Linked DNA regions of Homo sapiens. The protein of the gene in region 6 purifies or fractionates together with the protein of the main gene of each other region. This does not show direct contact. Each region holds a gene or a part of one and is shown on either strand. Other genes may lie near its edges. The genes, in order: EPB41, PPP2R2A, UBA1, EPB41L3, PNP, KDM4C and RNH1.

Region 1 (3,500 bases), on a different chromosome or scaffold from region 6:
ACGACTCTGATCCACAAGGTTTTGACTATAAATATTAGTTTCCAAAAGGCCTAAAATAGTTTGTTCTTTTAAATAATATCTCCTTGAAATTTTACTAACAATATCGTTTCTTTTTCTCCACATGAAGACAAATAACCTACGGACAATTTATTTCAATTCGGAATTAAATCTTAATGAATGAGATTTTAGTTAAATCTAAAATTAACTGTCCATCATCTGTGTCAACTTGAGTACGAATCTATGAACTTTAGACAATGCAGACAAGTTCTGATTCAAATGTTAACTAAAACAAGATATGGATTTTCCCCTATATAAAGCTGAAGGAGAAAAAAGCAGTTAAAAACCCCTTGAGGCCAGGCACAGTGGTCATGCCTGTAATCCCAGCATTCTGGAAGGCTGAGGCAGAAGGATTGCTCGAGTTCAGGAGTTCAAGACCAGCCTAGGCAACAAAGCAAGACCGTCTCTACCAAAAAATTTAAAAATTAGCTGGGCATGTGGCATGCACCTGTAGTCCCAACTACTCAGGAGACTGAGATGGGAGGATAGCTTGAGCCCGGGAGGTTGAGGCTGTAGTGAGCCATGATCACACCACTGTATTCTAGTCTGGGTGACAGAGAGAGACCCTGTCAAGAAAGAAAGAAAAAAAGAAAATAAATAAAGAGGGGGAAGGAGGGAGGGAGGGGAAAGGAGGGAGGCAGAGGAAGAGAGGAAGGGAGGGAGGGAGGGAGGGAGGGAAGGAAGGAAGGAAGGAAGGAAGGAAGGAAGGAAGGAAATTTGAAAAACTCTTGAAAGTACCAGGCTTCCTGAAAGATAATGTAATTTTTTTTTTTTTTTTTTGAGATGGAATCTCGCACTGTCACCCAGGCTGGAGTGCAGTGGCGTGATCTCGGCTCTCAGCAAATTTTCCTGCCTCGCCTTCCGAGTAGCTGGGACTACAGGTGCCCGCCACCACGCCCAGCTAATTTTTTGTATTTTTTGTAGAGACAGGGTTTCACCATGTTGGCCAGGATGGTCTCAAACTCCTGACCTTGTGATTCGCCTGCCTCAGCCTCCTAGAGTGCTAGGATTACAGGTGTGAGCCACTGCGCCCGGCCGATAATGTAATTTAATTCTTTTGGTATTCCTAAAATAAAATGTTATTAAGATATGAATGGTTTCTTTGCCTTTACTGTTTGTGTTTATTTACTAGCTAACATTCATTGAGTATTTATTAAATGCCAGGCAATGTTTTAAGAGCTTTTACCGGTTTCACTCTTTTAATCCTTTCAATCCCAAATGAGGTGGATATTATTATCCCCATTGTACAGAGGAGGAAACTGATAAAGTGAAAAGTGTCACTTTTCTTCGATTTGAACCCTCTAGTCGGATTCTATAGCTTGCATCTTAACTATTACAGAACATAGTAAATCTTGTTTTCAACCTTGTTTCACTAACAGCAAGTGTGCAATTATAATTTTATCCTAAATTTTACCCTCAGCACTTTGAATATACAAGTAATAGTTCTAGAAATACATGTAATATTCTAATAAGACTCTAATAAAACTATGGAGTCCAAATCTCAGACCTATAATAGAAACATGTAGGACTTTTACTTTTTTCCCCCCAACACTGTCAGAGTTCTAGAAGGACTTACACTTTTAACGATGCAGATAATATTCACATGCTTCAGAAATAAGAAGACTCTGAAAATAATTCTTAATTGTAATGGTGAGGCTGAAAATAAATGACATTCTCAGAAAATAGTCTGAGTTACAGTACTAATGTTTTCCCATTTTTTGGGACAAATAAACTCACAACTCGTGTTTAGTTTAACAACACTATGTCACAATTAAGGCCCCAGACTAATATACATTACACAGGTGATAGAAAGAGCTAGACTTCCTCATCTGTATCTTACACTCTGTGGCAATATGCTCTAGTTAAAGAAGATGATCAAAATAAGGTAGACATGACTTGAATCTATCACATACCTTCAAAGGGCTTGAATTCATCACACAGCTTTTAGGAAGATTTACGTAAAAGAACCACATCTGCTGATAACCGTCCTGTTCCTAATAATTCCACAAAAATGAACTCTAAACCATCTCATCTTTCTTTTCCTCTCTCATGAGAAATCTTCAATTTGTTCCATTATTATAATAAAATGATATATGGGCTGAACACATTGATTTGATACTTTTTTTTTCTCTACTATTCTTTGATTTATAAACAGTAAATGGACAGGCATGGTGGTACACACCTGTAATGCCAGCTGCTCAGGAGGCTGAGGTGGGAGGATCACTTGAGCCCAGGAGTTTGAGATTAGCCTGGGCAAAATAGCAAGACCCTTTAATACATATAAAGTGTAAGTAACTGTTTAAAAAGTAAGTTTCCAATGACTACATTAATTTTTTTAGAGTAGAAACTATAAGCCGGGCATGGTGGCTCACGTCTGTAGTCCCAGCACTTTGGGAGGCTGAGGTGGACAGATTACCTGAGGTCAAGAGTTTGTGACCAGCCTGGCCAACACAGCAAAACGCTGTCTCTACTAAAAATACAAAAATTAGCTGGGCATGGTGGCCAGCGCCTGTAATCCCAGCTACTCGGGAGGCTGAGGCAGAAGAATAGCTTGAACCCAGGACGGGGAGGTTGCAGTGGGCCGAGATCACACCACTGCACTCCAGCCTGGGTGACAGAGCAAGACTCAGTCTCAAAAAAAAAATAGAGTAGAAACTATAAAGCTTTATGATGCTACTTATCACTATCAATGCCTAAGTCAACTAGCTAGTAAGAAATAAAACCAAGTACTTTTTTTATCCCCCCGTTGTTGAGACGGAATCTCATCCTTGTTGCCTAGGCTGGAATGCAGTGGCACGATCTCAGCTCACTGCAGCCTCCGCCTCCCGAGTTCAACTTCTCCTGTCTCAGCCTCCTGAGTAGCTGGGATTACAGGCACCCGCCATCAGGCCCGGCTAATTTTTGTACTTTTAGTAGAGACAGGGTTTGGCCATGTTGGCCAGGCTGGTCTCGAACTCCTGACCTCAGTTGATCCGCCTGCCTCGGCCTCCCAAAGTGGTGGAATTACAGGCATGAGCCACCGCGCCCAGCCCAAATACTCTTAAATGAAAAATAAAGTGTATAACCTGCCTTCCTTTGCCCACCTCCCATATCCACACATCCTTACCTGTGTTTCTGCACTGCTTAATGAATGAAGATCCAAAGATGGGTCTGTTTTGAGTTCCGGTTCAGGAGCTGCAATTGGGGCCTTTAAAATGATCTCTTCATCAAGACTGGTTCCAAATTCTATCTCTTTCTGACCTCCTTCACCTTTTTCTTTATCTGACTCTACTTCTTTGCCTTCTTCCTCGGACACCTGAGATTTGGGCCTTTTGAGAAACGAGGAGAATAGTCGTGAAAGTCCTCTGCTTTCTGATGTCCGCTCCTTGTTCTTGGTCAAGTCTTCATGTGTAGGAGTGTCTCCATTAGAAGCTTTCAGCTTCTGTTCACACCAATTATCTCCT
Region 2 (3,500 bases), on a different chromosome or scaffold from region 6:
ATTTTAATTCTCTTTCTCTTTAATCTTCTTTTGCTCCTCTGAATTCTCATTAATTCCTCTACATTGCAGAAAACATGAAACTGACCTGTCAACCATGAGTGTTACATATATGAATAATGTAAAGTTCACTCATAAATAGGGTGTGTCTTAACAACTTCTTGATAAGTTTTTTAGGGTCTTACATAAAGCTGCATTCCCACAAAGGAAACGGCAGCGTGGTTTTCCCTGCTCATACCTCTCATACCTTCTGCTTGTGGTGAGAGGAACTCTGTTCTTCTGCAGTTTCTCCAATGCTTTAGTTATTAGTGTTGATAATTCAGGGGAACACCACAGTGTGGTCGTTTTGGAAGGAACAGATCTTGAGAATCTAATAACGTCTCCACTGAAAACTGTGTTTTTACATAATCTCACATACAGTTTTATGGAGTTTGATTATTCTCACATACTTTGTCTTATGGGCCAAAAACTCCAGGTAATAAAATATCACTGCTGTAGAACATAAGGATTCTGATTTTTTAAAAATTTATGTCATATTTATTAACATACTGATTTATTTCCTGCCTGCCTTGTCCCCACCTTACTGAAAAATGTATCCTAATTCATATGTGTCCTGTGTTTGTGTTAAGGAAAAAACATTTTTTAAAGAGCTTTCTTCCTGTAAACACTATTAGGCACCACAAACTAATTTTATCTCATCTGAAAGTTTCATAAATACATTGTGGTTTCTTTATTTGGATCTTTAATAAGGAGGATGGATTTAAACAGGCCACAAGACAACTGGACCAGGGGGCGGGGGTGTTGTCATCCTCATCACAAATACTTTGCAAGTATTTAGAACAAATACTTCTCAGAATACAGATTTAGGCTAGGCTCATATCTATCTATAAATCATATACATATATAAACTAAATAACACATAGAAAATCTGTATGACTGAACTACAAGAAAATTATAAGCAAGGTCACATAGGGCTTAGAAGAAATAATAGATTACAGATGATTAAAGTTAGCAGTTTTTCTCTGTTTACACTTCATCATTGGGAAGGGCATCCTTAGGGGCAACTATCATTCTTCTGTACGATACAGAGACTGCCAGGCTAGAGTCACTGGCATCTCTCTGAGTTGTTTCTGTTTTTATAAAATGGCTTTATATACTGTTATAAACAATTTTGTTACACCATTTTGCTTATGAAAGATCGTTAGGAATGTATGCTTTTCTATAAGAAAAACTGTTATACAATTGTAACAGTTTTAAATCAACATGCATGAGCCTATAGTGATACAAATAAACAATTGAATGGATACATGGAGAGCAGGGATGCTTCCTGCAGGAGAATTCTAAATAAGACGTGGATACATACTCTTCCCTACAGGGAGTATAACTTATTTCTCCCTTTAAGTACAGGCTGGATTTAGTGACTCACTTCCAAAGAACAGAATATGGCAAGGGTGAAAGAGTCATTGTATAGTGGAGAAGCCTGGCAAACATTGTCTTAACCAAATGACCCAAGTTAACGCCACCAGCTGTAAGTCATGTTGATACCATGTATCCCTTTGAACAATGCTGTGAGAAGTCACTTCATCTCTCTGTTCTGTTCCTAAAAACCCATGGTCCCAGTCTGATCATGAGGAAAGAGCAAGCAAATCCAGTTGAGGGATATTCTACAAAGTACCTCACCACCACTACTCAAAACTGTCAAGATCAAGAAAAATAAGGAGAGCCTGAGAAACTTAAAGGCAGAGAGACTAAGGAAACTTGATGACTAAATGCAGTGTTGTTTGAATTCTGGAGCAGAAAAGGAATGTTAGTGGAAAACCTGGTTAAATCTCCAAATGCAGTCTGTAGTTAATAGTAATATACAAAGTCGACGTCTTAGTTTTGACACACGTACCATGGTTGCGTAAGATGTTGACAGAAGAAACTGGGTAAAGGATATATGGAACACTGCAATTCTTGTAACTTTCTGTAAATCTAAACTTAATTGTAAAACAAAAGTTTGTTTTTAAACAGATGCCATTTTATATATCCTTGATACCTAGGAATTTGGTTTCTTCTTGAAGGACTTGGGGATGTATGCTTTTAATCAGTTTTCTTCAGGCCCTGTTTCCTACTTGTGAACCCTGATACAAGAAGGGGAAAGGTTTTAAAAAGGAGGCATCCAGTCCTATGGAGGCCTCTGTGGAATCTTTGATAGGCTCTGCTAAGAAGTGGGAGCAAGGGAGAGCAGCTTTACTATTTTGATTCTACATAATAGGCAGTCTTAATCAACTTCATTGTTCCCTTTAAATTTTTTAAAATTCAGTACTGAACATGTATATGTTTACATGTAGGTACAGACATATATGTGTTTGCATACACCACACATGCATATCAAGTTTTTCCCTCTAGCTTTAATTACTTTTAAGGGACAGGGATAGAGACCTGTCTGTGACTTGATTTGACTATCACATGGAATTTATGAGTGCCACCAATCTTTGCACTTTATTTCCATGTGTGTATGTTATTCAGCTGATAATAGGAAATTTTTTAGTAAGTTCAGATTAGGGTTTTTTTTTTTTTCGTGGAATCCTTTTACGTGAAATGTGAAATAGCATATTTTAAATGCCTTAAAATGTTTTTCTTCTTCAGTATTTTAAGGACTTTTCTTTATTTTCTTCCCAGATAAAACAATAAAATTATGGAAAATCAGTGAAAGGGACAAAAGACCAGAAGGGTATAACTTGAAAGAGGAGGATGGAAGGTATAGAGATCCTACTACAGTTACTACACTACGAGTAAGTACATAAGAAAAAAATGTCACAGATAGTGCTTGTATTCATATTATATAGCCCAAATCCTGAGCAGAGCTTGAATAGGAATAATTACAGTCTATCTCCCCTTTCCCAGTAATTCTGTAATCAGGTAGGACATTGAGTAACTCATTTAAACATAGAAACTGACCTACATAGAGGTCTCACTTTGGCCAGGGACAGAAGCAGGACTCAAGCACAAGACAGTATTTCACGCCATCAGACTTCATCTCTGGTTTGTCATGTTAGCTATCACAAGGTCAAGTTTCAAGATAAATTTTCTTTGGAAATCAAAAAAGTAGATACAGATCAAATCTTCTAGTTGTAGCTAAAAAATACCAAGAATTAGATGTTATGGGTTAATTTTCTTTTTAGCCTCTTTAATCTGAACCATAAACATTTATTAGCTTGGCATGTCTTTCAAGCAAAATATTGAAACTAAGAACTGCAAATTCTAATAGTATTGCAACCAGTAAAAGAAGATATATTATCCACATTGTTCATTTTTTCTTCAGCACTCGAAAGGATCAACATCAGTTGCTTTTTAAAACTAAATCTATGTAATATTGTTCTATTTTATGTTCTCAAAAACTGAAATAATGAAGTTTTCTGAATCTTAATTGCTATTTGAAACTGAGCCTTTTGTAATTTCTGTTTTTCATGTGTCTTATTGACAGGTGCCAGTCTTTAGGCCTATGGATCTAATGGTTG
Region 3 (3,500 bases), on a different chromosome or scaffold from region 6:
GTCCTTATATGCCAGCTGCAATTCCACGTGTTTAACCCTCACAAAAAGTCCATGAAGTCAGTGCTGCTACCACGCACTGACTACAAACAGGAAAACAAAGGTACAGGAGATGAAACAACCTGCTTGAAGTCACACTACCAAGGCTGGAGGCCTGCAGCAAGGCAGTATGGCTCTACAGTCTGTGCCCACAACCACTATGCTGTACTGTCTGTACACATCTTCCCCACTTGAAAAGGCGGGGCCAGGCCGGGTGCGGTGGCTCACACCTGTAATCCCAGCACTTTGGGAGGCGGAGGCGGGCGGATCACAAGGTCAGGAGATCGAGACCACCCTGGCTAACACAGTGAAACCCCGTCTCTACTAAAAATACAAAAAAAAATTAGCCGGGCGTGGTGGCAGGCGCCTGTAGTCCCAGCTACTCGGGAGGCTGAGGCAGGAGAATGGCGTGAACCCAGGAGGTGTAGCTTGCAGTGAGCCGAGATCGCGCCACTGCACTCTAGCTTGGGCGACAGAGCAAGACTCCGTCTCAAAAAAAAAAAAAGAAGAAAAGAAAAGGCAGGGCCAGGGGCTAACTGCTGCCTGCATACTCTAGTCCCCCAGCACAAAACCTGACATTCAGGCCGACCCATTAAATCAATATTGAACACTACTGAATAAACCAGAGATGGGCTCTGAGAAAACTGGGCAGAAGGCTGGGTAGTACCCCCAAGATACCTGGAAACCACTAAGGAAGTCCTCAACGAGGGGTCCAGTGTAGGCAGTGACAGGCACATAGCTGTTGAGCTCAGCGAGGCGGGGCTGTGATACCTCGGCCCGGTTTTTACCGATGTCCTCCTCCCGCAGGTAGAACTGTAAGGGTGTGCAGTAGGGAAAAAGATGAAATGGCTGTGGCACCGGGAACAGTGGTGCCTCGGGAAGGGGGAAAGGGGGAAGGGTGCTAGGAAGAGGTACCTGGGAGGAAAGATCAGCCCACTGGGCAGTGCCCTGGTCATGTAGGGTAACAGCCTTGACCCCACCAAGGATGATGTTCTTAGCGATCTCCACGCCCAGGCCCCGCAGGCCTGATACCAGGACACTGGATGTCTGGAGCCGCTTCATTGCCTCATGGCCCAACACATACCTGCCAGGTTAGGGGGTACTCTAGGTCAGGGCCTGCCCCACCCAACCTTATCCTCTCAATGTCCCATTCCACACCCCTCAGCCCGGCCTTGGCCCCACTTACAGCTGCCGGGAGTAAAGGCCCTCGTCTATGTCTGCTTCACTGCCGTTCTTGGCCATTCCCTAGGAATAGAGGAAAAGAACAAGTTTAGGGAGACACACAGGAGTGGAGCATGGATAGACAGACAGTGATACAAAAGACTTTCCCACCCACCACCTCGTCTGCCAGTCTCCACGGAGAGGACACTCACGTTGGTTGGCACCGAGGGCACTTCGGACAACACGGACTGGGCAGGGGAGCAGTTAGAACCCGGCTTTGGATCAGGCCCGGACACGCGACGTTTCTTGGACAGCGGCGAGCTGGACATCTGGAGGAAAAAAAGGTCAGAGGTGACCCTGGAGCACATGGGTACCGTTTTTCTGTTTGTTAGTAGCAACTGTGGGGGAAGGGAAGACTTAAGTATTAGTACCCCCATTTTACAGCAAAGAGGGGACAGGCACAGAAAGGTGAGGACTTGCCCAGGGTAACACAGCTGTCAGACCTAAGATCTGAACCCAGGTGGTCTGATTTGCAAATCCACACTGCTGACCACTAAGCCATTTGCTTCTTCCCAGCCCAGCATAATGAGGGAGAGACTCCAATCCTGGAGTGAAAGGAATGACAAGAATGTACTTGTGTCGAGGTCAGGGGAAGGATGTGGATTCAGGACAGACCTGGTTTCAAATCTTGAGCCTGCCACGCACTAACAGTAATAATTAACCGCCACAGGCCTCAGTTTTCTCACCTGTGAAACAGGGGTGATAATACCACTTACCTTCCCCACGGGGTTATCGAGATGATAAATAACACAGAGCATAGAACCTGGCACAGAGTAGGTAGGCAGTAACAAGCAGCCATTCTCCTCTCCCTTAATCCCAGGGATGGCGGCGGGAGCGGGGAGTGCAGGAGGGAAGTGAGGCTTGGACATCCATCAGGGTGGCATGATGGCAGGAGCGGTAACTTGCTGAGAACCCAGTCCCCAGAGGGGCTCAAGTTTTATAAAGCCCAACCCTGCCCCCAGCTTTGGGAGGGGAAAACCGACACAGACCAATAAAAGAGGTTGCAAAAAGATAGAAAACAAACACATCCCAAGCCTCATCTGCATGCGGAGTCCCTTAAACAGGTTAACCACAATGATAAATGAGTATTAGATTGATCAGGAGTCCTCCTTGTGCCAGATGCCATAGTAAGCACTTCTCTAAACCTCGTCTCACTCTGTCCTCAGGGTACTCCTGTGGGGTTTGGACTGCTATCAATAATACCCCCAACTTTAAAGTGATGGAAAAAAATTCACTCAGGGACGTTCGGTGACCAAGGTTCCCACACACTGAGCTGGGACCAGACCAGGATCTGCTGACTCTGAAGCCCAGGCTGCTTCCTCGTGTTATCACGTTTCATCCCCTCCATGACCCTGACCCAGCAAGGCAGAGTTTAGTGTCCTTGCCGGACAAATGAGAAGTAACTTGCCCAGGGTCACCTGCTAGGTCCCAGAGACAGAACAATAAAGCCTGCTGTGGAAGTGAAATCTGGTGGTGGGGGTGACTGGGTCCACATGCTGGAGATGGGAGGACCCAGCGTCACTTCCCCTCACCCCAAGTGCTCCTCTAGGCACTGAGTCTTCTGTTCACACAAGTCCTCCCACACTGAGACTTTTATGACACTAAGTATCCCAATGTACCTAAGATTCCATCTTGGCACTTGTCACTAGCACCAACCACAATGACAAGAGCTCCCTACTATCTACCAAGAGCATACTGTGTGTCAATCAAAGAGGAAAGGGCTTTGTCTAATCTTAACAATCCCCATGACCCAGATAACCCTATGCCCAAATCACAAATGGGAAAAGAAAGGCTTAGAGAACCCCATTCACTCGCCCAGAGGCATGCAGCTGGTGGGGGACTGTTTGCCAAATGCCCCTGGGCTCAGGGCCCAGTCCACAGGGCTAAGGAATGGGAGATGAGGGGAGGCAGCAGGCTGGCTGGAGCCCCTGAGATAGCCAGGTGAATTGCTTAGAATGCTAAGAGCCAACCTGGGTAGCAAGAGGCTTGGTGAGTTAGTAGAGACAAAGGTGAACCATATTTTCCATTTACTGACTCTCTGACTGACCTGGGGTAGAGATCTCATTTCCTCTGAGCCTCATTTTCTCCAAAAGCTGGGACAAATGAAACTGTCTTCAAGGGGCTGCTGGCAGGGTTAAAGAAGCCAAGGTCTGTGGTCAGAACTCACTGACCTGAGGATGTGAGTTCCTCCCTGGGCACGTGTAGTGGCCTCTATTACTTAGTTATCTCCTTGCCTTGTCATT
Region 4 (3,500 bases), on a different chromosome or scaffold from region 6:
GGAGACAGATGGTCTTTAGTTAATGGAGTTATCCAAAATTTTGCAGAAATTGAATGTGATGTTTTTTTCTCTCAATGATTGATATTTTGGCAATTCATTCCATCTTTTTGTGGGAGTATTTAACTGAGGATTAAATACTACTTTTGGATTGTTTAAGGTAGAAAATGAGATATACGAAATATGGGAAGATTTTCCTTATCCTTTCAATGAATGTATCTCAGTTATTTGAGATATTAAAAATAATACATTCTCACTTTAAAATATAGTCTAACAATACAGAAAAACCAAAAAAGGCAATGTCATTATCTACCTTTCTGAATGTATTACGTATCAGAGTGGAATAGGACACACCTGGGTTGGGCTCTCGGCCTTGCTATTTAATAACTATGTGGCATGGTTCTTTTAACTTCCTAGAGCCTGTTTGCTCGTTTATAAAATGGGCATAATGCTTATATCTGAAGGATATGAGGATTAAATGATGTAATACATGCAAACACTGAGCACAGTATCTGGTATATCACAAGTGCTTCATAAATAGCAGTAGCATCATTTTGTACATATACAGACTCATATGTAGATTACATAATATTTTACATGAATAGACTTCTGTCTTAAATACTTCTATGTAACCATTTTTTGTTTGTTTGTTTCGTTTGTTTGTTTTTTGAGAACAGAGTCTCACTCTGTTGCCCAGGCTGGAGTGCAGTGGCACGATATCAGCTCACAGCAACCTCTGCCTCCCGGGTTCAAGTGAGCCTCCCAGGTTCAAGCGAGTCTCCTGCCTCAGCCTCCCAAGTAGCTGGGATTATAGGCAACCGCCACCCTGCCCAGCTATTTTTTTTTTTTTTGAATTTTTAGTAGACATGGGGTTTTACCACGTTGGCAAGGCTGGTCTCGAATGATCCTGACCTCAAATGATCTGCCCGCCTTGGCCTCCCAAAGTGCTGGGATTACAGGTGTGAGCCACCGCACCAGGCCAAATTTTTTTTTTTTTTAAATGTAACAGTATGTCTCGGAGGAGCTTTTTCATGCATGCAAATCTATACCCACATCATTATTTTTAATGGTAAATAAATATTTTCTTTTGGTCTTGTGCAATATTGATAAAGGATCATTACCTTAATGATGGTGTTGATGTGAAGCCTTGTTGTCCAGCCCCTCTGCCTCCTTCTGCTTGCTGCCTACACTTCATGACTCTCTTCTAATATACACATCAGGAGGCTTGTGGTAAAACAGGATATTTAAAAAAATTAAAATCTCTGATGATTATTATGTATATCTCAATGTTGTGTGTGAATATTGAGTTCTAACAAACTAAAACAAGCAAATTTTCACCATAGATTTCCTGACTTTTTTAAATTTAGATTTTAATGTCATCTCTTTATAGAGGGGCGAGCTCATCCAGCAAAGCCTAACCTGAGTTCCTGGGTGCCCATCATTCTCCCATGTGCCTCTTGGCATGCCTCGAGGGACAGCAGATGCAGCAGTCTGGACCTGAACTAGACTCTCCAGAATCAAAATATCCAGGGTCTGGGATAGTTTAGTAGGTGTACGGGGTCACTGGGCTCCCAGAGATGGAAAATATTAAGCTTCCTTTGATCTCTCTCTGAGTTCCCAACCCTTCCTTCGTCCTCAACAACAGAATGGTAACAAATGTCATATTCCATTCACAGATTTTATGCCACCTCGTCAGGGATGTGGGCTGCTCTGTTATGTTATTCACAATCCCATGATTTTGACTGATCTTGGATTTACTTGGAATCCAGTCTTCATTCACCAATTTGGGGAGAATAGCTTTATGATCCTGAAGGTGGTGCTAGCTGGAATGGTGCACCCAGGCTTCTGTGAGATGATGCCATCGGGGCATCTAGAGGTCTCAGGCTGGCCCGGACAGTTGCATATTTCTACGTAATTTTTTCCTAGAGTTACTAACATCCCAGAGATATAGGGAGTTTTGGGTAGTTTCATTACAGAGAATTATTCTTGATGAATTTTGGTGTTTTATACCATTTTGTGCTACTCAGTGACAACTTTTATTAACTTTAGAAGGAATATGCTTACTGGCTAAGTATAAGACTTGGAAAATAGAGATTGACTAGGTTGTCTGCTCAAGAAGTCTGGAAAACTTTTCCTCTGAATTCTTGAAATGAGAGCAGTAATTCATTGGGGGGAGTTATATTGTAGAACAGGGGTCCCCAACCTTTTTAGCACCAAGGACCTCCATTTTGCTTACCTCCTGCTGTGTGGCCCTGTCCTTGGCACAGAGGTTGGGGTTTCATGGAAGACAGTTTTTCCATGGACGGGGGTTGTGGGGGATGGTTTCAGGAAGAAACTGTTCCACTTCACATCATCAGATTCTCAGAAGGAATGCACAACCTAGATCCCTCACGTGTGCGGTTCACATTCTCACATTCTCACTCAAGAATGTGAATCAAATGCCACTTCTGATCTGACAGGAGGCGGAGATCAGGTGGTAATGCTGACTCACCCACCGCTCACCACCACTGTCCTTGGCCCAGTGGTGGGGAATCCTTGTTGCAGAATAAAGAAAATACAAAGAGCTAGAGAAGATACAGATGGAAACATCTGCTAACCTTGAGCTAGGTAACTGTGGGAGGAGTACTCTATTTCTCTAGGCAAGGTTCCCCAGAGTGAACAGATGACGATGCTGCCTACCTCCAGGTTGAAATGAGATCTGTGTTTGAAGACATCTAGAACCAGTCTAATGAGAGTATACACATAGTACATGTTTTCTCATTTCAGTAGTATATGCTGTTGTCCTCTTTGCTTGTTTTTAGGGACATGTCTTAGTAATTGTAAGATCCAAAGATGACCCTCAGGATGAGTGTAGAATTTTGTGACATTCCACCACAAAACCCGTAATCCAAAAGATGGCCCTCTATGAGAATGCAGAATTTTTTGAGTATGAAACTCCAGATAACAGTAGAGGTTTGCAAAGAATGAGACACAGTGGTTATACAACAGAATTACCTGATGAGTTTATTAAAAAGGAATTTTTGGGGACCAATCCACGGATTATCATCTAATAGATCTGCAGTTGGATCCAGACCTCCTTATGTCCCGACAAGTACTTTGGTGAAATCTGATCCAGGTGGTCCCAGGACCACATTTTGAGACACACTGTCTTAACGACTTTTGTCTTAATGACTTTCCAGCTTCTTCACTATTGTCAAATGAGCGTTTAACCTGGAAAGAAGATATAATATAAATAAATAGTACTAAGGTTGAAGAAAATGTTTAGCATAGAGCAAAGAAACCTGGCCTTGGACTCAGAATGCTTGGGTTTCTTTTTTTCTTTCTTTTTTCTTTTTTTTGAGACGGAGTCTCGCTCTGTCACCCAGGCTGGAGTGCAGTGGCGAGATCTCGGCTCACTGCCAGCTCCGCCTCCCAGGTTCATGCCATTCTCCTGCCTCAGACTCCCAAGGAGCTGGGACTACAGGCGCCCGCCACCACGCCTTGCTAATTTTTTGTATTTTAGT
Region 5 (2,592 bases), on a different chromosome or scaffold from region 6:
GAAGTCTTTAAATCCTACCCACCTAAAAAAAACGGAGTAACATACATACCTTTCATCATTGGGCCCTCTGAGAGGGTTCTGACCACTGAAACCAGGTAGGTTGATATGGTCACGGATCAGCATGATATCTCCAACCTCAAACTTGGGGTTCAGCCCTCCTGCTGCATTGGTGACTACCAGGGTGTCCACACCCAGAAGGTGGAAAACCCTCACTGGGAATGTCACCTTCGAAGCAAACAATCCGAAAAAAATTTACAAAATTTCATTAATTCAGCTACACTGAAATGCATGACATACATCGTGAAAGAAAAGGAAGGAGAGGACCAAAAATCCACCTAGCCCAGATAGCTAGGTAGTGAAAGAGGCTAGATAGTTCTCTCCTGCCTCTTCCAGATCCAACCGGACCTATCCCTCTGACTTACCTTCCAGAGTGGGTACCCTTCATACATGTGGAACCTGCCCTGCATCATCACACAGGCCCTGCCATTCAGGAACCCAAACACCAGTCGGCCAGCATGACCTGGCACTGTATACAAAACAGAAAGAGAAATGAATGGGATTATATTTTCATGCAACACATATCCATTAAGCACCTACTGTGAGTTACTCGCTCTGCTCAAAATGTTAGGTTGTAATTAAGTAAAAGACTCATTATTATCTCTGCTTTCAGAAAGTTTAAGTCTGGTGAGAGAGCCAGGCATTACTAATAATTATACAAATACAACCCAAGATTAGAGATATGGGGTGCGTTCAGCATGTTCAGCATGAACACACAAAGAAGGAAGGGCTTTTTAAAGAAATTTCAAGATAATACAAGCCATACTGCCAGAGAGTAAAAAGTGAGCAAAAAAAGTAGATACTCAGAAATGGAAGATTAAATACTACATGTTCTCACTTATAAGTGGGAACCAAATGTGTACATATGGACCTACAGAGTGAAATAATAGACACTGGGGACTCGGAAAGGTGAGAAAGTGGGATGGGGATGAGGGATGAGAAATTACCTAATAAGTACAATGTTCACTGCTCAGGTGATGGTTACACTAAAGCACAGACGTCACCACCACGCAGTATATCCATATAACAAAACTGCATTGTACCCCTGTAAATCTATAAAAATTAAAATTAAAAATAGGCCAGGTGCGGTGTCTCACACCTGTAGTCCCAGCACTTCGGGAGCCCAAGACAGGCGGATCAACAGGCCAGGAGTTCAAGACCACCCTGGCCAACATGGTGAAACCTCATCTCTACTAAAAATACAAAAATTAGCCAGGTGTGGTGGCACATGCCTGTAATCCCAGCTACTCGGGAGGCTGAGGTGGGAGAATCTCTTGAACTTGGGAGGTGGAGGTTGCAGTGAGCCGAGATCACAACACTACACTCGAGCCTGGGTGACAGAGCGAGACTCTGTTTCAAAATAAAGTGAGTACAGTGAATGCAGTAATTATAGACCTCTTCAAATTTTTCAAAGTTCTCAAAACATGTATTCTTATCTATTGCCCTAACTTAATTACCTGCCTCCTCAGTCCAGCAAGCAAGCTCATAGTATACTTACTCTGGCTTCTTAAAGAAGAGGCTACTGAACAAGGGGGAAAGAATTTGAACGCATGCAAGTGTCTCTTTCCTTATGACCCACGGAACAGTCCTATGGGAACACATGCCCACGGAGGGGTGCGTGGGAGTGCAAAGATAACTCCCCACAGACATAACAGCCATTATTACCATTTCTTTTATCTGGCAGTCACTTCTAATAGACGGCCAACCTATCCCTTAGGGAATGGGAGAGGGACTAGAACCAAGAGGAAGAGCTGAGAAATTCTCAAAGATAGAGGAGCTTATGCAAAAAAACAAAACAAAAACAGTAATAAAGTTGACAAAGGAAACCCAAGTGGAGTATAAAAAATAAACATGTTGATAAGCTTAAAAAAACTAACCCACTTATCATTTAATGCAGTGCCCTTCTCACTGGGGGTAGGAGTGGCCAGTGGAGCCAGCGTCACTACTATCTCCCTTAGAGAAGTATGCCCTTCACACACCCTCTGTTAATATTTCCCTCACCTTCTCCCTCTGCTCTTCCAGTCTTGTGTTAAAGAGTTTAAAAAAATAGCTATTAAAGGTCTTTTCCTGCTGACAGGTCTTAAAAAAAAATTCTTAACTCTCCAGGGAAAAGAAGATAGAAATCTTAAAAATTAATAAATAAACCAACAGAAGTTAGTTATTTGAGAAATTACGTAAACCAAATAAACAACCCTTGCCCTTTACTTGGCCCCTGTCACCTGGCCCTCTTCTGAGTCTTAGCCTCAGTCCACTGACACACACATGTCCTGTCTCTTATGGGATGTCTGCTAGAGGCATCTCCTAAAGTCACTCTGACTCATGGTGGGCTTTTCTCCTCTCTTACAACATTTGTCTTCAGTGAAATGCTAGGTCAAGGAGTAGAAACATTGGCCTCCTTGGTTGTGTTCCACAGAATTCCAAGAACATCCCTCAGTCCCATTCCCCACTTTCCCTTGCCAGTACCTGTACTTCGGGGAAAGTTGGGGATTTCACCGTAGTCAAAGATCTGGGCCTGAGTTAATTTATCAGTCAGAC
Region 6 (3,500 bases):
TTCTTACAGGCAAGCCAAGCCTCTCAGCCTTCAATAGCAATGTTGGTTTCTCTACTGTCAGTCTTTGCTTGGGGAAATGATAAAGATGAAGATAAACAGCACTAGATCTATAATCACCTTCCTTGAGAGCAAAGAAATCTGAGAATTACTTTCAGCTCCATTCTACTTTAAAGAAGGTCGCTAAAAATAACTAAAGCAGGCATTTGACTCAGTCACCTGTCCAAAGAATGAATATCTGCTTGGCTACATTTAAGCCATTCATGAAATTAAGTTGCAAATTTTTTTTCCTTTTTTTTTTTTTTTTTTTTTTTTTTAAGAGACAGGGTCTCTCACTCTGTCACCCAGGCTAGAGTGCAGTGGTGGGATCACAGCTCACTGCAGCCTTGAATTCCTGAGCTCGAGTGATCCTCCTACCTTAGCCTCCCTAGTAGCTAGGACCACAGGCACACACCACTAAATTTTTTTTTATTTTTTTTTTGTAGACACAGGGTGTGACCATGTTGTCCAGGCTCATCTCGAACCTCTGGGCTCGAGGGGATCCTCCCACCACAGTCTCTCAAAGTGCAGGGATTACAGAAATAAGCCACCACATTTGGCCAAAGTTGTAAATTTTGCTTATTAGTATGTGAATGCTATTTTCAAACTACTCTTAGGCACCTTTTCAAAGAAACCAGACCATATTTTTTTTATCTTTCATATTTTTGATGTGTTTATAATTCAATGAGATATACAATTCTACATAAAAAGATAAACACTATTGGGTCAAATCAGAAAAGTATATTTTAATTAACATTTTAAGACTGATAAGACGCAAGGTATTCAAAGCTGCTGTCCTTATACAACCTCCCTTGCTCCTACTCAGGGACACAAGGATCTATTTTGAGTTGAAACCAGCAGGAGCAGTGTCTGTTCTGCAGCCAGCGCAACCTATCAGCTCAAACAATTACTCCTTCCTGATCCACCTGAATTCCCTAATCAGGCTGGATACATCAAAAAAAAGTACTGAATTCTGACAATCGCTACAGACAGTCCTAGCTCCCCTGATCCACTCTTATGGCTACATGGACAGTTTCTACTGAATATGGAATATTAATACTGTACAAGGACAATATTGTACAATTTTCCAAAAAGTCACAATGGGAAGCTAAATAATATAGAGGAGTCTTTTCTCAGAGGCAAAGGGCCTCTTTCGAGGAGGGGGCAGGACAAGAAAGGTCACCCTGGTCCTGAGATTCAGGGTCCATGAGGAAAGAGTAAGAAGAAAGCATGACCACGTGAGTCCTGACACTGAAATAGAAGCTGTGGGAAGGCTGGGACCAGGAGGTATTAACTATTGGCAGAAAGTGATCAGTGCCCAGCAGATGAATTCTTCTGCAGGTGACAGAACAATTCTGTAATCTTTACTGTATCAATGTCGATATGATTGTGACTTTGTACTATAGTTTTCTAAGATGGTAGCATTGGGAGAAACTGAGTAAAGGGTACAAAGAATCACTGTGCACTATTTCCCACAACTGCATACGAGTCTACAATTACCTCAAAGTAAAGAGTTTAATTTTTTAACAAAAAAAAGAAAATCAAGCATCGACACGTGGCCATAAGCTCCATGTGCTAAATTATCACTATGTGAGCCACAGCTCACAGGAGGCTTACCTCCCAGTTATTGAATGAATATGATTAAGACCCATAAATGTAAAATGTTATTTATCTGTGCCCTAAAGGAGGATTTCAGTGCACAGCATGTTGTTTTCAAAATGTGCTCTCACCATATAATGAATATGGTAAAAAATGGATATTGCCACATACACTGGGGACTTTGAAGCTATTTCTCTCTCCACTGGGGACCGCTGGGATTTCCCCAGGTTCAAGGCCATTCCCATGGCTCTCCACATCACTCTCTTCTCCCTCTGTTAACACACCATTACTCTCTGCCACTGATGAGCATGACTCAGGTGACTTTGGCCATGAAAGCTCGGATGGGTCTGATTTCTCGGGCTTCTCATAGCCACTAGACAATGGAATGGAATCATCAGCCTCACTGGATATAGAAGGTACACTTCTATATGCATAAGCTTTGTCATCCTCAGTTTTTATGTCTTCTGTTACAGATGTACTTAAGCAGCTGTTTCCTGAGGATAAAACAGAAGACTGTTAATAAATCATGCACTGTATTACTACTAAGTAGAATTGGTAAACTATTCCCAAATGATTCTGTATCTTACACACACATACACACGCATGCGCATGCACATACATGCACACACACAAAACAAACCTCATTTGTACCCATCACATACTAGCTCTGATACTGAACAACCCAGTTCTTCTACTCAAGTATTATGCCAGGGCTCAAAATCTGGAGATCAATGTGCAAAGAACCATGTAGTGACAGAACTAATGAAATTCAGGGCCCTTAGGCAAAACCATCCAGCAATTCATAAACTGGCTAATTAAACACAGTGTAAGAGAAAGCATGATGAGGAGCCGGGCACGGTGGCTCACGTGTGTAATCCCAGCACTTTGGGAGGCCAAGGCAGGTGGATCACTTGAGGCCAGAAGTTCAAGATCAGCCTGGCCAACACGGCGAAACCCCAGCTCTACTAAAAATATAAAAATTAGTTAGGCATAGTGGTGCACACCTTTAGTCCCAGATACTCAGGAGGCTGAGGCAAAAAAATCGCTTGAACCTGAGAGGCAGAGGTTGCAGGGAGCTATGATTGTGCCACGGCACTCCAGCCTGGGCGACAGAGAGAGACTCTGTCTCAAAAAAAATTTAAAAATTTTAAAAAAAGGGACTATAGTGAAATATCCATATGTATTGCCTAACTCTCTATTCTGCATTTGTTGTAATTCCCTTCCCTACCTTCTCTGCCTTGCTATCTTATATCCATTCATCAAAACTCAATTCAGATATCACCTTTGCCAAGAAACCTTGGCTATCCAGCTCTTGTGTGTTTGAAGTCCTTCCTTGGTAAACCAGCAACATCCTATGCAATCTCTATAATGCTACTTACCACATTGGATTGTAATTATGTGGTTATTTGCCTAGCTCTCCACTAAAACATGAACTCATTTTTTAAAAGTTCTGTGGTTTAAACTCTATCCACACAGCTATTTCAAGAGCAAAGGCAATGAGGCTGGAGTAGCAGCTGAGGACCAGTTTAGGACTATGTGAAGACTTTTTCTTTTATTATAGGTGGAATAATACTAAGAAGAAGGTAGTCACAAGACCTAAGCTTTTTTTCTTTTAAAGGATCACTCTAATGGCCACCTGGAGAACTGACTAGCGGGGGTGACTACAGCTGACATTCCTGAATAAGAAGGAAGCAATTGCTGCAGTCATCCAGGCAACAGCTATGGTGCCATGAGTGAGGAGGAAGCAGCAGAGGGAGTCGGATTCTGGCGGAGGGGGGAATCCCATGAGGAAGGATTTACAGGATGAGAAGTATGAGAGGAACACAGGAATTAGCTTATTACAATACAAAAACTCCAACAAATAT
Region 7 (3,228 bases), on a different chromosome or scaffold from region 6:
CCGTGTGTGAGCACATGGGCGAGAGTACGTGAGCACATGGGTGAGAGTGAGCACGAGTGTCCGTGTGTGAGCACATGGGTGAGAGTGAGCATGAGTGTCCATGTGAGTGTGAGCACATGGGCGAGTGAGCACGTGAGTGTGGCACATGGGCGAGAGTGAGCACGAGTGTCCATGTGAGTGTGAGCACATGGGCGAGAGTGAGGGTGCATGTTCATGTACTGGGAAAGGCGGGCTGGCGGCACCACTCTGGCTTAGTTCTCATTTTAACTCTGAAAGTCAGAGGTCATGTTTCATGAAGCCTGAGAGCTTCACGGAGCTCCAGCCTACCTGGCCACCCTGTGGTCCATCTTCCTGGAAGCCCCGCCCACCTTTCTCCCTTGCGGGAACCCCGCCTGTGTCAGGATGTTTTTCCAGATTTGTTTTCTTTGTTAAAGCACGTTCTTTTGCAGCTTTCTAAGAAAAGGTTTTGCAGGAGGTAATTTTTGGGGTCTTGTGCCCCTGTTCTGTCCTTGGATCATTTAGCCGGGTATAGCATGCACCATTATGCCCGGCTAATTTTATTTTGTTTGTTTTTTTGAGAGAGTCTTGCTCTGTCGCCCAGGCTGGAGTGCAGTGGTGCGATCTTGGCTCACTGCAAGCTCCGCCTCCCAAGTTCATGCCATTCTCCTGTCTCAACCTCCCGAGTAGCTGGGACCACAGGCGCCCGTCACCACACCAGGCTAATTTTTTGTACTTTTAGTAGAGATGGGGTTTCACCGTGTTAGCCAGTATGGTCTTGATATCCTGACCTCGTGATCCGCCTGCCTCGGCCTCCTAAATTGCTGGGATTACAGGCGTGAGCCACCACGCCTGGCCTAATTTTTGTATTTTTAGTAGAGATGGGGTTTCACCATGTTGGGCAGGCTGGTCTTGAACTATTGACCTCAAGTGATGAGCCTGCCTCAGCCTCCCAAAGTGCTGCGATTACAGGCGTGAGCCACTGTGACCTTGTGTGCACGATCTGCTTTTTCTCGTTGGCAGCTTTTCAAGCTCTCTTTGTTCACTGTGTTAGGGGTTCCATGTGCTTGGCCTTGATGGGGGTCTTGGTTCTTTGTGCTGGATACTTGGTTCTACTAAGAAAATATACCTTTGGTGATTTTTTTCTCTCTCCTTTCTTATGTTTCTTTTTTGGTGTGCCCATGAGCCTGTCCTGATGTCTTGTGGAGTGACCCTCTAATTATGTTCTCCAAATTTTCTTTTCGATGTTTTGTTTTATTTTTGGGAGATGTTCTCATTTACCAGCCAGTCTACTGAATTTCCACCCTCAGTGTTTTGTCTTTTGTTTGCTGTTTCCCGTGTGCCTCTCGCCAGGGGCTTTCCGTGGGTGGCTGGTCATCCTGGGCTGGGCACCAGGTGCAGAGTGAGGCCCGGGAGCCCTGGACAGTGAGCCCTGCAGGCCGAGTCATGGCTGCGTTTCTCGAGGGCTTCCTCCTGATGGGGGATTTTCAGTTCCCTGCCAGGGGACACCATCCTGGCTGCCAGGACCTTGTGGGTGTTCCAGATGTGGAGAGGAACCTTGGGTCCTGGTCACTGCAGACTTGTTCCCCCTGAGCCACTCACAGGGTGGGGGTCCTGCAGCTTCCCTGGCCCCCACCTTGGAGAGGTCCAGTGCAACTCCTTGGCCCTGCTGTCCGGCCTGTGGCGGCTCCACCCCGGGAAGTGGGTGTTGGGTCTTCTCTATCCCATCCTCTTTTGTCTGACCCGTTCTCTTGTCTCTCTCTGGAGCCTAAAGTCTGTTGTCCACTCTGTTCTTGTCTTGGTACCCTCCATACCCTCGTTTCCCCACAGCTGCTCCTCAGTCTCTGGCTGGCTTCTCCTTTGAAGCCCACGCAGCCAGACGGTGTCGAGGTGACAAGGGGGTGGGTGTGGCTCTCTGGGTGGACGACATCTCTCTCCTGTCCTTTCTCCTCCCTGCAGAAGATCTCAGGCGAGTGAGGCTGCTTGTGCCTCGCTTGTCTGTGCCTTCCTTGTCCGTGGTGGGGAACCTGCCCAGGGCCACAGGGACGGTGAGCCTTGGGGACGGCCCCACCTGAGGGTCCTGAGTTGCCGAGCACAGGTGTCCGTCGCGCCCCCCAGGCCCAGGCCTGCTCTGCCGGTCAGTGCGGTGCCAGGCACGCCCGGCACCCTGACCCCCGCCCTGCTTCACCCAGGTTGGCCGACTGCGATGTGAGTGACAGCAGCTGCAGCAGCCTCGCCGCAACCCTGTTGGCCAACCACAGCCTGCGTGAGCTGGACCTCAGCAACAACTGCCTGGGGGACGCCGGCATCCTGCAGCTGGTGGAGAGCGTCCGGCAGCCGGGCTGCCTCCTGGAGCAGCTGGTGTATGTGCACGCGCTGGGCGGGTGGTGCGGCCAGGGCTGCCCAGGGAGGAAGGCGGGGGTGGGGGAGGACACGGGCCCATGCCTCCCTTCTGGCCTGTGTGCAGCCTGTACGACATTTACTGGTCTGAGGAGATGGAGGACCGGCTGCAGGCCCTGGAGAAGGACAAGCCATCCCTGAGGGTCATCTCCTGAGGCTCTTCCTGCTGCTGCTCTCCCTGGACGACCGGCCTCGAGGCAACCCTGGGGCCCACCAGCCCCTGCCATGCTCTCACCCTGCATATCCTAGGTTTGAAGAGAAACGCTCAGATCCGCTTATTTCTGCCAGTATATTTTGGACACTTTATAATCATTAAAGCACTTTCTTGGCAGGAGAGGCTCTTGTCCTTCCTGGGGTCCTTGCGAGGCGCTGGCATTGGAGACGACACCACCCCACTTGGCTTCTCTCCCTGCCTAAGGGACCCCGCACCAGGGAAGCAGCCCAAGGCCCTGGCTGTGCTCAGCTGGGTCCCCTGAGCTGCACCCACCCACACTGGGGAGCACAGGGCAGGCCCTGCCCAGGGTGGAGGGATGCCCCTTGGCTCTGTTGCCCGTGCAGGGTGACGCCTGCTGGGAGCTGCCTGCAGGCCCAGCTGCTCCCGCAGCTTCCACCCCGGAGCCTCAGGAGCCCCCAGCACTGCCCTGACTGCCCCCCAGCCCAGCCCAGCCCAGCCCAGCCCAGCCCAGCCCAGCCCAGCGCGGCCCAGCGCGGCCCGGGTTCCTGCCCGGAGCCCAGTGCTCGCCCCAGCTCTGTGTGGGATGATGGGGCAGCCCATCTTGCCCACGGGTGGACAGCTGACCAAGGTGGGCCAGCCCGGGGTGCCCTGCCCTG

Evidence for each region.
Region 1: the proteins of KDM4C (region 6) and EPB41 purify together in Homo sapiens (affinity purification with mass spectrometry; one large-scale study listed by BioGRID and IntAct). This does not show direct contact.
Region 2: the proteins of KDM4C (region 6) and PPP2R2A purify together in Homo sapiens (affinity purification with mass spectrometry, with the first as the bait; one study listed by BioGRID). This does not show direct contact.
Region 3: the proteins of KDM4C (region 6) and UBA1 purify together in Homo sapiens (affinity purification with mass spectrometry, with the first as the bait; one study listed by BioGRID). This does not show direct contact.
Region 4: the proteins of KDM4C (region 6) and EPB41L3 purify together in Homo sapiens (affinity purification with mass spectrometry; one large-scale study listed by BioGRID and IntAct). This does not show direct contact.
Region 5: the proteins of KDM4C (region 6) and PNP purify together in Homo sapiens (affinity purification with mass spectrometry; one large-scale study listed by BioGRID and IntAct). This does not show direct contact.
Region 7: the proteins of KDM4C (region 6) and RNH1 purify together in Homo sapiens (affinity purification with mass spectrometry, with the first as the bait; one study listed by BioGRID). This does not show direct contact.

The regions. Positions count from the first base shown.
Region 1 is NC_000001.11:28,987,569-28,991,068, reverse strand, and holds part of EPB41 (protein 4.1), read right to left. Parts: coding exon 3,164-3,500; intron 1,714-3,163; exon of another isoform or gene 1,634-1,713; intron 1-1,633. UniProt on the Homo sapiens protein: Protein 4.1 is a major structural element of the erythrocyte membrane skeleton. It plays a key role in regulating membrane physical properties of mechanical stability and deformability by stabilizing spectrin-actin interaction. Recruits DLG1 to membranes.
Region 2 is NC_000008.11:26,357,508-26,361,007, forward strand, and holds part of PPP2R2A (serine/threonine-protein phosphatase 2A 55 kDa regulatory subunit B alpha isoform), read left to right. Parts: intron 1-2,661; coding exon 2,662-2,774; intron 2,775-3,466; coding exon 3,467-3,500. UniProt on the Homo sapiens protein: Substrate-recognition subunit of protein phosphatase 2A (PP2A) that plays a key role in cell cycle by controlling mitosis entry and exit. Involved in chromosome clustering during late mitosis by mediating dephosphorylation of MKI67.
Region 3 is NC_000023.11:47,196,829-47,200,328, reverse strand, and holds part of UBA1 (ubiquitin-like modifier-activating enzyme 1), read right to left. Parts: exon of another isoform or gene 3,339-3,500; coding exon of another isoform or gene 3,305-3,338; exon of another isoform or gene 2,127-3,304; coding exon of another isoform or gene 1,974-2,126; intron 1,939-1,973; exon of another isoform or gene 1,873-1,938; intron 1,527-1,872; coding exon 1,410-1,526; intron 1,282-1,409; coding exon 1,223-1,281; intron 1,121-1,222; coding exon 952-1,120; intron 850-951; coding exon 715-849; intron 1-714. UniProt on the Homo sapiens protein: Catalyzes the first step in ubiquitin conjugation to mark cellular proteins for degradation through the ubiquitin-proteasome system.
Region 4 is NC_000018.10:5,533,998-5,537,497, reverse strand, and holds part of EPB41L3 (band 4.1-like protein 3), read left to right. Parts: intron 1-3,500. UniProt on the Homo sapiens protein: Tumor suppressor that inhibits cell proliferation and promotes apoptosis. Modulates the activity of protein arginine N-methyltransferases, including PRMT3 and PRMT5.
Region 5 is NC_000014.9:20,472,406-20,474,997, reverse strand, and holds part of PNP (purine nucleoside phosphorylase), read right to left. Parts: coding exon 2,521-2,592; intron 527-2,520; coding exon 423-526; intron 226-422; coding exon 50-225; intron 1-49. UniProt on the Homo sapiens protein: Catalyzes the phosphorolytic breakdown of the N-glycosidic bond in the beta-(deoxy)ribonucleoside molecules, with the formation of the corresponding free purine bases and pentose-1-phosphate.
Region 6 is NC_000009.12:6,984,973-6,988,472, reverse strand, and holds part of KDM4C (lysine-specific demethylase 4C), read right to left. Parts: intron 2,149-3,500; exon of another isoform or gene 2,130-2,148; coding exon 1,807-2,129; intron 1-1,806.
Region 7 is NC_000011.10:494,015-497,242, reverse strand, and holds the end of RNH1 (ribonuclease inhibitor), read left to right. Parts: intron 1-2,189; coding exon 2,190-2,360; intron 2,361-2,464; coding exon 2,465-2,552; 3' UTR 2,553-2,728; downstream 2,729-3,228. UniProt on the Homo sapiens protein: Ribonuclease inhibitor which inhibits RNASE1, RNASE2 and angiogenin (ANG). May play a role in redox homeostasis. Required to inhibit the cytotoxic tRNA ribonuclease activity of ANG in the cytoplasm in absence of stress.